Homo sapiens: one gene and its partners. The protein of the gene in region 2 purifies or fractionates together with the protein of the main gene of each other region. This does not show direct contact. Each region holds a gene or a part of one and is shown on either strand. Other genes may lie near its edges.

What was found.
Region 1: the proteins of ZNF677 (region 2) and DDX52 purify together in Homo sapiens (affinity purification with mass spectrometry; one large-scale study listed by BioGRID and IntAct). This does not show direct contact.
Region 3: the proteins of ZNF677 (region 2) and PHF3 purify together in Homo sapiens (affinity purification with mass spectrometry; one large-scale study listed by BioGRID and IntAct). This does not show direct contact.

Annotation. Positions count from the first base shown.
Region 1 is NC_000017.11:37,641,263-37,645,015, forward strand, and holds the start of DDX52 (probable ATP-dependent RNA helicase DDX52), read right to left. Parts: upstream 2,185-3,753; 5' UTR 2,159-2,184; coding exon 2,072-2,158; exon of another isoform or gene 1,676-2,071; intron 1,047-1,675; coding exon 848-1,046; intron 1-847.
Region 2 is NC_000019.10:53,241,365-53,245,017, forward strand, and holds part of ZNF677 (zinc finger protein 677), read right to left. Parts: intron 2,534-3,653; coding exon 2,380-2,533; coding exon of another isoform or gene 2,346-2,379; intron 1,077-2,345; coding exon of another isoform or gene 1,030-1,076; exon of another isoform or gene 967-1,029; coding exon of another isoform or gene 893-966; exon of another isoform or gene 502-892; coding exon of another isoform or gene 420-501; exon of another isoform or gene 1-419. UniProt on the Homo sapiens protein: May be involved in transcriptional regulation.
Region 3 is NC_000006.12:63,680,725-63,684,377, reverse strand, and holds part of PHF3 (PHD finger protein 3), read right to left. Parts: intron 250-3,653; coding exon 1-249.

The DNA of each region.
Region 1 (3,753 bases), on a different chromosome or scaffold from region 2:
GTGGTGGCAGGCACCTGTAGTCCCAGGTACTTGGGAGGCTGAGGCAGGAGAATGACGTGAACCCAGGAGGCGGAGCTTGCAGTGAGCCGAGATTGCACCACTGCACCACAGACTGGGCAACAAAGCGAGACTCATCTCAAAAAAAAAAAAATGCTCGACCTCACCAGTTATCAGTAAAATATAAAATTGTTTCAGGCAGGGCGCGGTGGTTCAGGCCTGTAATCCCGGCACTTTGGGGGGCCAAAGCGGGCGGATCACGAGGTCAAGTGATCCAGGCCATCGTGGCCAACATGGTGAAACCCCATCTCTACTAAAAATACAAAAATTAGCTAGGCGTGGTGACACGCACCTGTAGTCCCAGCTACTCAGGAGGCTGAGGCAGGAGAATTGCTTGAACCCAGGAGGCAGAGGTTGCAGTGAGCCGAGATCGCGCCACTGCACTCCAGCCTGGAGACAGAGTGAGACTCTGTCTCAAAAAAAAAAAGTTTCATTCATTAGCTTGGCAAAAAAATTAACACCAATAATATTCAGCACTGACAAGGACTTGGGAAGTCACTTTGTAGTATTTTTCAGAGAAAGGGTACATACCCTTTCACCATATGATGCTACTTTTCGGATGGTATTCTGCAGAAATAACAGTACCTGTACAAAAGGATTTATGTATAAATATCTTTACTTAAAATTACCTTTGCTGTAACAATATTTCTAATGACAAATACCTGGAAACAACCTGAGTGCCATCAGCTGACAAATGACCTTATTGTCTGACTTGTAGCCATAAGCCTGTATTATTTTTATAACTGAAAAAAATTAAAGAGAAAAAACATGACAGAAATCAAACACTAACCTGAAGTCATCGTCTTCCTTTTTTTCTTGCTCTGCTCCCTCTTCCTTTCAGTTAGGCTCTCTTCTTTTTTCTCTCCATTTTGGGGCTTCTGATGTGTTTGTGATGCTCCACACACACCTGGGACAGACTTCTTGTTTCCAAAAAAGTCCAGTCCCTGAAGCACCTCCGAAGAATCAAAGTCATATTTCCTTTTTCCTATCTAAAACCCAAAAAATGTAAAATGAAACCTACTGACAGAATACCATTGCTTTCATTCAAGCAAGACTGTTCAATGACTCCTCATCTTTTCTACCCTTTCACCAAGTATCTGTCGAGCTAACAGGTGTCTGGACAAATGGAATCTGAAGAGACCTTCTCTGACCTCATAATAGTAACAAATTAATATTAGCAATGAACACATATATGCTTACTAAATGTCAAGCAGATTTCTAAGCATGTTTATACATATTAAATTGCTTCACATTTACAACTCTATAAGGTAAATAGCAGTATTACGAATGAGAAAACCAAGGCATTCGGAAATTAAGTAACTTGAGGTAGGTCTAAAAATGAGTAACTGGCAGACTTAGCATTTAGACCCAGATAATCTGGCTCCAGAGTTCATACTCACCAGTTAGAGAAAGAAGAAACACATGTCACACGCATATACACATCCAAACAACAAAGTAGACATTCAAGATTTTCCAGAATTGGGCCCCAATTGACCTCCCCCGATGTATCACTCACTACTTCTCTAGGTAAGAGCCCCCATTTCTTAATCGCTCTTCTCATTGGTTACTTAAGCCATGGGGTTGAAGCAATAAAAAGAATCACGCCCAGTACAACTATACGCATGCCAAGCCAAACTTGGGGAGACTATAGTAAGAGAATCTGTTTTCTCCATCTTTGGTTGTTTCTGTTTTCGAAATTCCTTTCCTCTAGGTTCGGAGAAAAAGTTCCTTTTGAAAGGAGGATTCCAACTTTGCTTTGAATAAGAGGGAGGAAAGAGGGTTTCCGTGCCAGGCCCAACTAGGTCTACAACAGGATAGTTAAAGAGCTTATTCAAAAGGCTTGAACCGAGCAGCCGTGCAGGCAAGCCGAACACAAAAGGAAGCAAAATACCCCAAGGGTGGCGAGAGCCAGGCCACGGGTGTCCAAGTGCGCCGGCCTCCCCCAGCAGCGGGTTCATTCCCGGGCTCCTGCTCCTTCTCAGTTACTCGGCCCTCGGTCCCTTGGGCACAGTACCTGGAATCGAGCTGCGTCTGCCGAGAAGCGTCTCGTGTCGAATTTGGCCCCCGCGCCGAGCCGGCGAAAGAGATCGTGGACGTCCATCTTTACCCAGAAAGCGCCACAGTTCTACGGCGCCTGCGCAGACTACTTCCCAGGCCCCGGGCAGCGTCGGAAGAGGGCGTGAGCATAATTGGCTCCTGTAGGCGGAGCCTGGCTGGGTGAGAAACGAGGCTATTTTATTATCGTGTACTCCGTCATTATTTATCTTTTTTTTTTTTTTTTGAAACAAGGTCTCTCTCTGTCGCCCAGGCTGGAGCGCAGTGGCGCAATCGCAGCCTCGAACTCCTGGGCTCAAGTGATCCTCCCATCTCGGTCTCCCAAACTGCTGGGACTACAGGCGTGTGTAAATTCTTTTAAAAAATATTTATCAGTATCCTCTTATGTTGGGCACTGTTCTAGACTTTGAGGGATACTATAGTAAACAACATCTTAAGATTCCTCTTCTTACGAAGCTTACATTTTAGTAGGGACAACAGATATTGTTAACAAATAAATAAGCAAAATCTCTGTAAAGTAATAAGTGCTATAAAACAAAAAGGTGTAATTGATAGAGAAAATGATGAGGGAGCTGACTTAGTGAAATTCACTCTGTTGAAGTGAAAACTTGAGCTAAGAGGAAGCAACCTGTCCAAGATCTGGGAACAGCATTCCAGATAGGGGAAACACGTGGCTGAAGGGAAAAAAATTGGAACCTTGAGGGAATAGAAAGAATGCCGGTGCGACTAGAGCCAAGTTGCAGTCTGATAGAGTAGTACAGATAAGGTTGGAGGGACAAACAGAAGCCAGATCTCACAGAATCTTGTAACAAGGTCATAGTAAGGAATTTGGACTTCCACCTTGGGAAACTATTTGAAAATTTTTATGGAGAGAAGAACATGATTTAGTTTATCACATTTAATTTTTTATATTTATTACATCTGTACGAAATTATTTACTGCTTATTGCCTCTCCCTCTTCTGGAATGTAAGTCCCTGAGCACAGGGATATACTTTGCTTCGTTATGTATCCCCAGTTTCTGTGCACTTTGGTGAATGAATGCGTGGATGTTTCATAAAGGATTACACTGGCTATTTGGAGAATGGACCATAGAAAAGCTAAGAGTGGAAACAGGTTAGTCAAAGTAGAATGATGATCATGGCTTGTCTAGGTTGGTATCTGTGCTGAGAGAGATAAATGGATTAGATCTGGCATGTATTTTGGAGGTAGAGCTAAACGTACCTGACGGATTTTATGCAGAGGTGAGAGAAAGGGAGGAATCAAAGATCACTCCTAGTTTTTTGGCTGAGTAGATGGCATGCCATTTACTGAGCTAAGAAAGCCTGAGAGAAGAAGGGCTTTCTGGTACAAGTGAGATACGGAGGATGGAATCAATTGTTATGTTTTGGACGTGTTAAGATGCCTACCTAGTTGACTTTAAGTGGAGACATCCAAGTAGGTAGTTGGTTCTGAATCTGAAGCTCAGGAACAAAAATTAGGGCTAGAGAAATTAATTTGGAAGTCATCAACATATAAATGATACAAAGGAGTTGTACCATATAAGCATTTAACTTATAAAAATTCAGTTATATGTATTTGACCAAAGAGAATGAAACATACTTGAAATTGTATGGGTGAGTCCTTTACAATCAAGGAAAGCA
Region 2 (3,653 bases):
AAATTATACTGAACTTTAAAAATGTATGCCTAATTCAACTTTGTAAGCTCCCTCAATAAAGGCATAAAAATCATACTGAAGAAAAATGTACAACTGCACGTATGGGATGAATAATGTGGTATGAGCAACAGTTTGGTCAACATGTTCGCAGATATGAGGTTGAGAACTTGGAGAATGCTCTTCCCAGGAGAAACTCCTACACCTTGTACTGCTGGCTCCAAGAGGATGATCAGCATATATCTAACCAGCGTTGTCACACTGCCCTTGGGAGACACTGGAAACTCCACAGAAACCAGAAGGTCAGAAGCACTTATCCCTCCGGCTGTCCTGATTCTCTCTCAGCATACTGGGACATGCAGGCTACTCTACTCAGTGGCTTCAAGAGGCACCTCTATGTAGCAGAATGATACTGTGACAGATTAATTAATGTTCTCTTTCAAGAATGTTCTGTCACCAAGGAAACCTCTTCCATGGGAGAGTCCACCAAAAGTTGTCCATCGCCTATTGGTGGGTTATCACAGCAGAAAGAGAGGAAATTTCAGACTCTAGGAATGTGTACTTTTCTTTTTCTTTTTTTTTTTTTCGAGATGGAGTTTTGCTCTTGTTGCCCAGGCTGGAGTGCAATGGCGTGATCTCGGCTCACCACAACCTCTGCCTCTCGGGTTCAAGCAACTCTCCTGCCTCAGCCTCCCGAGCAGCTGGTATTACAGGCATGCGCCAACACACCCGGCTAATTTTTGTATTTTTAGTAGAGACGGGGTTTTTCCATGTTAGTCAGGCTGGTCTCGAACTCCCGACCTCAGGTGATCTGCCCACCTCGGCCTCCCAAAGTGCTGGGATTATAGGCGTGAGGCACCACGCCCATCCGGAATGTGTATTTCAAAAGCAACTTTCAGAGGCAAATCTTAGAAGAATATGGAATCAGGAAGACTAAGGTCTCCCTAAGTTCCCGGATAGAGTAGAAAGCTAGAAAAGGGAGAGAAATAAAAGGTACGGGAGTAAAATAAAAGGGTCGGATTTTGTAGGATTCTAAGGAAGAGGCAGTGTGCTCTGTCCACAGGCTGCAAGGTGAGAACCTAAAAGAATGAGATATATTCCCATTTTGGAATGGCAATCAAAAAGAGGATCTCTCTGTCAAGTCTTTACATTAATGCTGAGTAACAATCTCAAAAGCCTGCCCATTCCCCTTTAGACACATGTGGCAAAAGCAGAACTGAAGGAATGGCCAAGGGGCTTGAACAAGTAGAGAGACCGACAGTCTTTCAAATTTCAGGGAACCCCAGATACATTTTGGGGGAGCCACTGTTTTCCCATTTTCCTGAAAAGTTCTTGCAGGTATAAGAAATAGGAATAGAAATTGAATAGGTTCTGGAGCCAGGGCTACAAAGGCCCCAGCTCTGATCTGTATAGACTGAAAACCACACATCAGATGAAATTATATACACTAAAAGAGAGTCCTTAAAAACAGCCATTTCGGTCCCTCTCAAAACCAAGAGACCAAAATGGTCAGAGGGGCCAAACAGTATTGTAGGTCATGATAGCACCTTTGCTTTTGTGTCTGTATGAGTTGGGGCATCACGGGAGAGTGGGAGTTCAACCTTTTACACATTTGAATAACAGTATGTTGGGGGACAGTAGGAGCGGGTGTGGACCTTGCTTTGAGAGCTCATAAGAAATAAACTTTTGTTTTCCCACTGATCTTTCCCATTTGCAGAGTTTCCCAAACAATACTCAATGGAGTAGCTTACTCTGTGGCCATCTGAGCGCTTATTTGTGCTCACATTCCGACCTACCTGATTTTTTCCCTATTTTCACTTCACTTTCCATAGTCTAGGACTCTTTCCTGTGCTCCAAAATGAACACAATATTCAGCTCAGGAAAGATTTCAACTTATAAAGAAAAAAAGGAACATGGTATGCTGTGCTTTTCCTGGATACATTCCCAGCCCTTTGTTCAGCTACGAAGAGAGGACATTACACATGGGTCTGCAAAACTATTTCCCAAAACAATTTCATAAATTAGTCAACGGACTGCCTTCTTCTGAATGCTTAGGGATTATTTTAAATATGCAGACTCTGAAAAAACTACTGAATCAAAGGCACAGGGATAAAACCATGATACCAGACACTTTAAAACGTTTTCCATAAGGTTTTGTAAGTACTGATATTCTGGAACCACCACTCGTCAAACCTGATTATGCGCAGAACTTCTGAAGAAAGGGGAAGTTTAAAGTCTATATGCTACATTATGAAGCCTTTCCACTCTCAATCAAAAAGTTTCAATCTCCCCTTTTAGAACAGGGATCGGATTCAGACAAGCACATCAGGGCCTCCCAAGAGACTCACAAGGAAAAATGTAAAGATGTACAAGGGTGGTTACCATCTTCTGGAGGGATGTTATCCTCATCGAGAGAAAGCAGGTTCCTGTAGTTCTCCAACATCACGTCCCTGTACAAGGCCCTCTGGGCAGGGTCCAGGCACTCCCACTCCTCTTGAGAGAATTCTATGGCCACATCCTTGAATGTAAACAGTCCCTGAAATAAAAACACACTTCACCAAGTGGACACAGGAAAATTTCTTATTTTCACACAAAATGGCAGAAAAGAGGTGTACATATTCACTGATTTATGTGAGTTAATGCAAGCAACTTATATATCCCTAATTTTATTTTTTTTAAACTGAGATGAAATTACATAACATAAAATTAGCTATTTGAGGCTGGGTGCAGTGGCTCACACCTGTAATTTCAGCACCTTGAGAGGCTGAGGTGGGAGGACTGCTTGAGCTCAGGAGTTTGAAACAGTCTGGACAACGAAGTGAGACTCCACCTCTACTAAAAAATTTAAAAAATTAGCTGGGCACACTGGAATGGGCCTGTAGTCCCAGCTACTCAGAAGGCTGAGGTGGGAGGATCACTTGCACCTGGGAGGTGGAGACTGCAGTGGGCAGTGATCATGTCACTGCACCCCAGTCAGGGAGACAGAGCAAGACTTCACCTCAAAATAAAACAAATAAATTAGCCATTTTAAAGTACAATTCAGTGGCATTTAGTACATTCACAAAGTTATACACCACCACCTCTGTCTAGTTCAAAAACATTTTTATCAACTCCAAAAGAAATGCCGTACCCATTAAGCAGTCACTCCCCATGTGACTTTAACATGAAATAAGCTTACCCAAATAGGTAAGTGACTTGCATGCTGCAAACTATGAAATACTAATGAAGGAAATTAAAGCAGACAAAACAAATAAATGGAAAGATATCCTATGTTCAAGAACTTAGAAAATTAATACTATGAAAATGTCCATATTATCCAAAGCAATCTACAGTCAATGCAATCCCTATCAAAATCACAGTGACACTTTTTACAAAAATATAAGAAATAATCCTAAAATTCATATAGAACTATAAAGACCCAAAAGAGCCACAGCAATTTTGAGCAAGAATATCAAAGCTGGAGTATCACACTTCCTGATTTCAAAGTATATTACAAAGGTATGGTAATCAAAACAGTATGGTACTGGCATAAAATAGACACACAAAACAAAAGTACTAGAATACAAAGCCCAGAAATAAACTCACACATATACAATCAACTGATATTTGACAAGTGTGTCAAGAATACATAATGGAGAAAAGATGCTGTCTTCAGT
Region 3 (3,653 bases), on a different chromosome or scaffold from region 2:
GACTTGAAGACACTGATACTTCAGGTACCACTTCAATTTGTCCGCTATTTCGGCTGCACCTTCTATTCTCCTTATGGTACTCAGGTTTCAGTGACATACATACTTCTTCTTTAACCTGACTCCTTTCTGGTTGTTTCACTCCTGCTTTAGCAGTAGATACAGTCTTCCCAGATGCTTTTTTTGTGTTACTTAATGGTGCTGCATTTGAACGCTTGGCAATAGTGCTCTGTCGCAAACTTCTTACTTGTTCTATCACAGGGGGAAAAAATAAATAAAAATACTTAGCTATTTTGTCATGTGCTTTTATTTCAATACAATTTAGAATATATCACTTCTTTATTCTGAGCTATAATTTGCTCAACAAAAATGTATTGAACAGTACTCATAATGGTGACATGATATATATACACATATATATAATTTAACATATGTCAAATTTTATATTTATCAAAGTTCTCTGAATTCTAGCAGGGGGAAAAGCCTCTAAAAAATTCAGACTAATATTATACCTTATTAAAAGAAATGTTTTCATCAAATCTCTTTTCCATAAAAAGTAACCTAGGAGTGACGTAAGTAAAATGAGCTTCCTTTACCATTAATGCCCATATTAAAGCAAGACCATCATGGATTTTTAAACATTAAATATTTCTAAATATATAAAACCAAATATATTCCAGTGCTAAAGAAACCTGAACTAAAAACCTCCTATCACAAACCAGGATCTGTGCGAGTTTCAAAATACAGCCTCAAACGGACTCTAATTCCTTTATCAATGTGCTTCCCTTAGGTCACCATTTTAGCATTAAAGCTATTCCTAAGAAATGATATCAACACAGAGTACCACATACAGCTCATCAAAAAAGAAACACAATTTAAAAGACTTAAACCAAGCAAATGTATCATAAGGAAAGTATGAAAATTTAAAAGCTTCCCACACAATGCTCCTAATAGTCCATTAAATGAAAAGAGTTTCATTTCCCTATTCTGATACATCCCCCCCTTGTATCAGGAGAAAGGAGAAACACAAAATGAAAAGAGCTAAAAAGAAAGAGAGCTAAATAATTCAGTAAGTACAAAAACAACCCACAAACTGAATTTGTCATTTATCACTGAACTGTGAGAATCTTTAAAAAGGTAAATGTCCAGGTGTTGCTCGTAGTTCTGATCTAGTATTAATAGCACACTTTCATTTTCAAAAGTATGCCCAATTTGAACAATAAAATTATATAGTCATCCTTATCTTAGAGACCCTTTCTAATTCCCATAGGACACAACAAAGTATCTGAGTATTAGGTTAAGTACTTAATAACTTTTAAAAATTACTTGGTGGGTTATGAACTATTTATCACATATTCAGTTATAAAATTTTTTTAAATAACTAAAATTTTAATAAAGCTTTGTTTCAATATTTAGGTGATCTTTAAAGCTTTAAAGACAGATTATAGTAATTTACAGCTCTATTCATCCTTGAAATGAAACAAATGAAGGATTTTAACACTTATTACACATTAATAAATAAAGATCTTTTAACACCCAAGCGGTTGCTAAAAATGACAAAAGAATAGTATATTCAGCTGTGAAGGATTTTCAGATAAAAAGTGGTTTTCCAATAGGAAGCAATTTATTAAGCAAAGGCTAAAGTCACTTTTTCTCCTCTAAATATTACCTGCCTTAGTTTGAAGCCTGATTCTATAGGCAAAAAAGTTTTATTTTCCTACAATGTTTATTCTATTCTTTTCATTTCTCAAAGCCACACGTATATACCAAATAACTGATTTTGAAAATGTATTAAAAACATAGATCAAGAAAAGATGATGAAATAAATACATGGATCTAAATTTATTCACTTCTCAAAACCCTACTGAAGCTATAACAGCGGGACATTTTTTGAAAAGTCCAAAAGGCAAGGAAGAACGAGAGAGGAAAAACCAGCAGCAAATTTTGGAAACCAAACAAGAGATGATTACCAAGTATTTGACATAAGAGACCCAAAAGTAATTAATAAAACACTAGGCTGGCAGTGTTGGCAAAAACTAACACCATTAACACCTCAAAAGTCTTAAGACTTGGTGGTCCCAGATGATTCTAAAGTGGGAATGAAGACAGATGCTTAACACTTAGAAGGGCTGAAAGCTCTTTAAAAGTAGCAGTTAGATTTCTAGATCCCTCTTTCCCCTACTCCATTTGTTGGGCAACTGCCCTTCCCTAGTCCTGAGCCAAAACTCGTAGCTTATTCTCTGGAGATAGTAAAGCAAGGTTTCTAGGCTAAAGAACATGAGGCACAGTTGAGACTGGCTGTAAAGTACATTGAAATTTGTAAGATTAAGTGAATTTGTATATACTGAAATCTGAGAAACCCCAGTCAGTTTCCCTTACAGGCTTCCATAATATGCTAGCAATCTAATAAGTTATGGAAAATAACCTAAATTCTGATAGGAAGGGTTCTGCCAAACAACAGTACAGCCAGATTGCTATACACTGACGCTCATAGCTGGTAAAACCCAATCCCCACACTTAGAAGTTTCATAATTTTAGTTCCCTACCCTTAAACATGAGCAATAATCAAGGGTCAGACATTTCAGGAGAGCATCTAGGAAAGATGGAGGCCAAAACCTTTTTAAACATTTTTTTTAAAATAATGCAACATTGAGAAGTCAGAAACTATGAAAGGAGACAAAAACTGTTTAAAACGCCATTAGTATCTTAATAAAGACAAAAGAAGATACTACATCCATGAAACATGAATAGAACACTACAGAAAGGACCATTCTCAAAACAACAACAAAAAGAACATTTAAGAATCAGAAGTACAAAACTTGACTGAAAAGTTGGAGGATAAATATGAGAAAATTTAAGCACGTTAAAGAAAAATTACAAAGAGGTAGGAAGTAGGCAAAATAAAGAAAACAGAGGGACCAGTCCCTGTTATGTAACAAATAATAAAGGTTCCAGAAATCAAGAGCTAACAAAATAAAGAGAGGAATTAACAATGAAATAATTTGAAAAATTTTCCCGGAATTGAACAATAACATTTTTCAGACTAACAGGATCTACTGAGTGTCTTGAGCTCCATACACAAAATACACCAAAACCAATACATATCATCATGAAATATCAAAACACCAAAGCTGAAGAGCAAGATTCCACAAACTTCCAGAAGAAATCAGATAACATACACTCCTACACACACACATCAAAATAAACTTCTCAACAACCCTGAAGTTAGAAAAAAATGGAGCAACACCTTCAGAATTTCTGAAGGAAAATGATTTCCAACCTTGAATTTTACATCCAACCAGACCATGATTCCAGTATGAGAATAGACTAAATACAAGGTAAACATACAAGGTTTAAAAAGTGTATCTCACAGCTCCTTTTTCTCACAAAACTACTGGAAGAGGTGCATCACCAAAATAAAAAAATTGAATCCAGAAAGAGGAAATAGGAACTACAACAAAAGCACAAAGCACAGACTTCCAGAAAAATGGTAAAGGGAGATCCCTGAACAGCTTTGCATCAGGCTCATAGGACTAACAGGAGTCTGTCTACATAAGAGGGGATCAGAAGGCTCCAAGAGGTGTTTTCAATAAAATGGATATGACAGAATACCTGAAATACACAAATATCTTTAGGGTAGATTTAGACAACTGGTA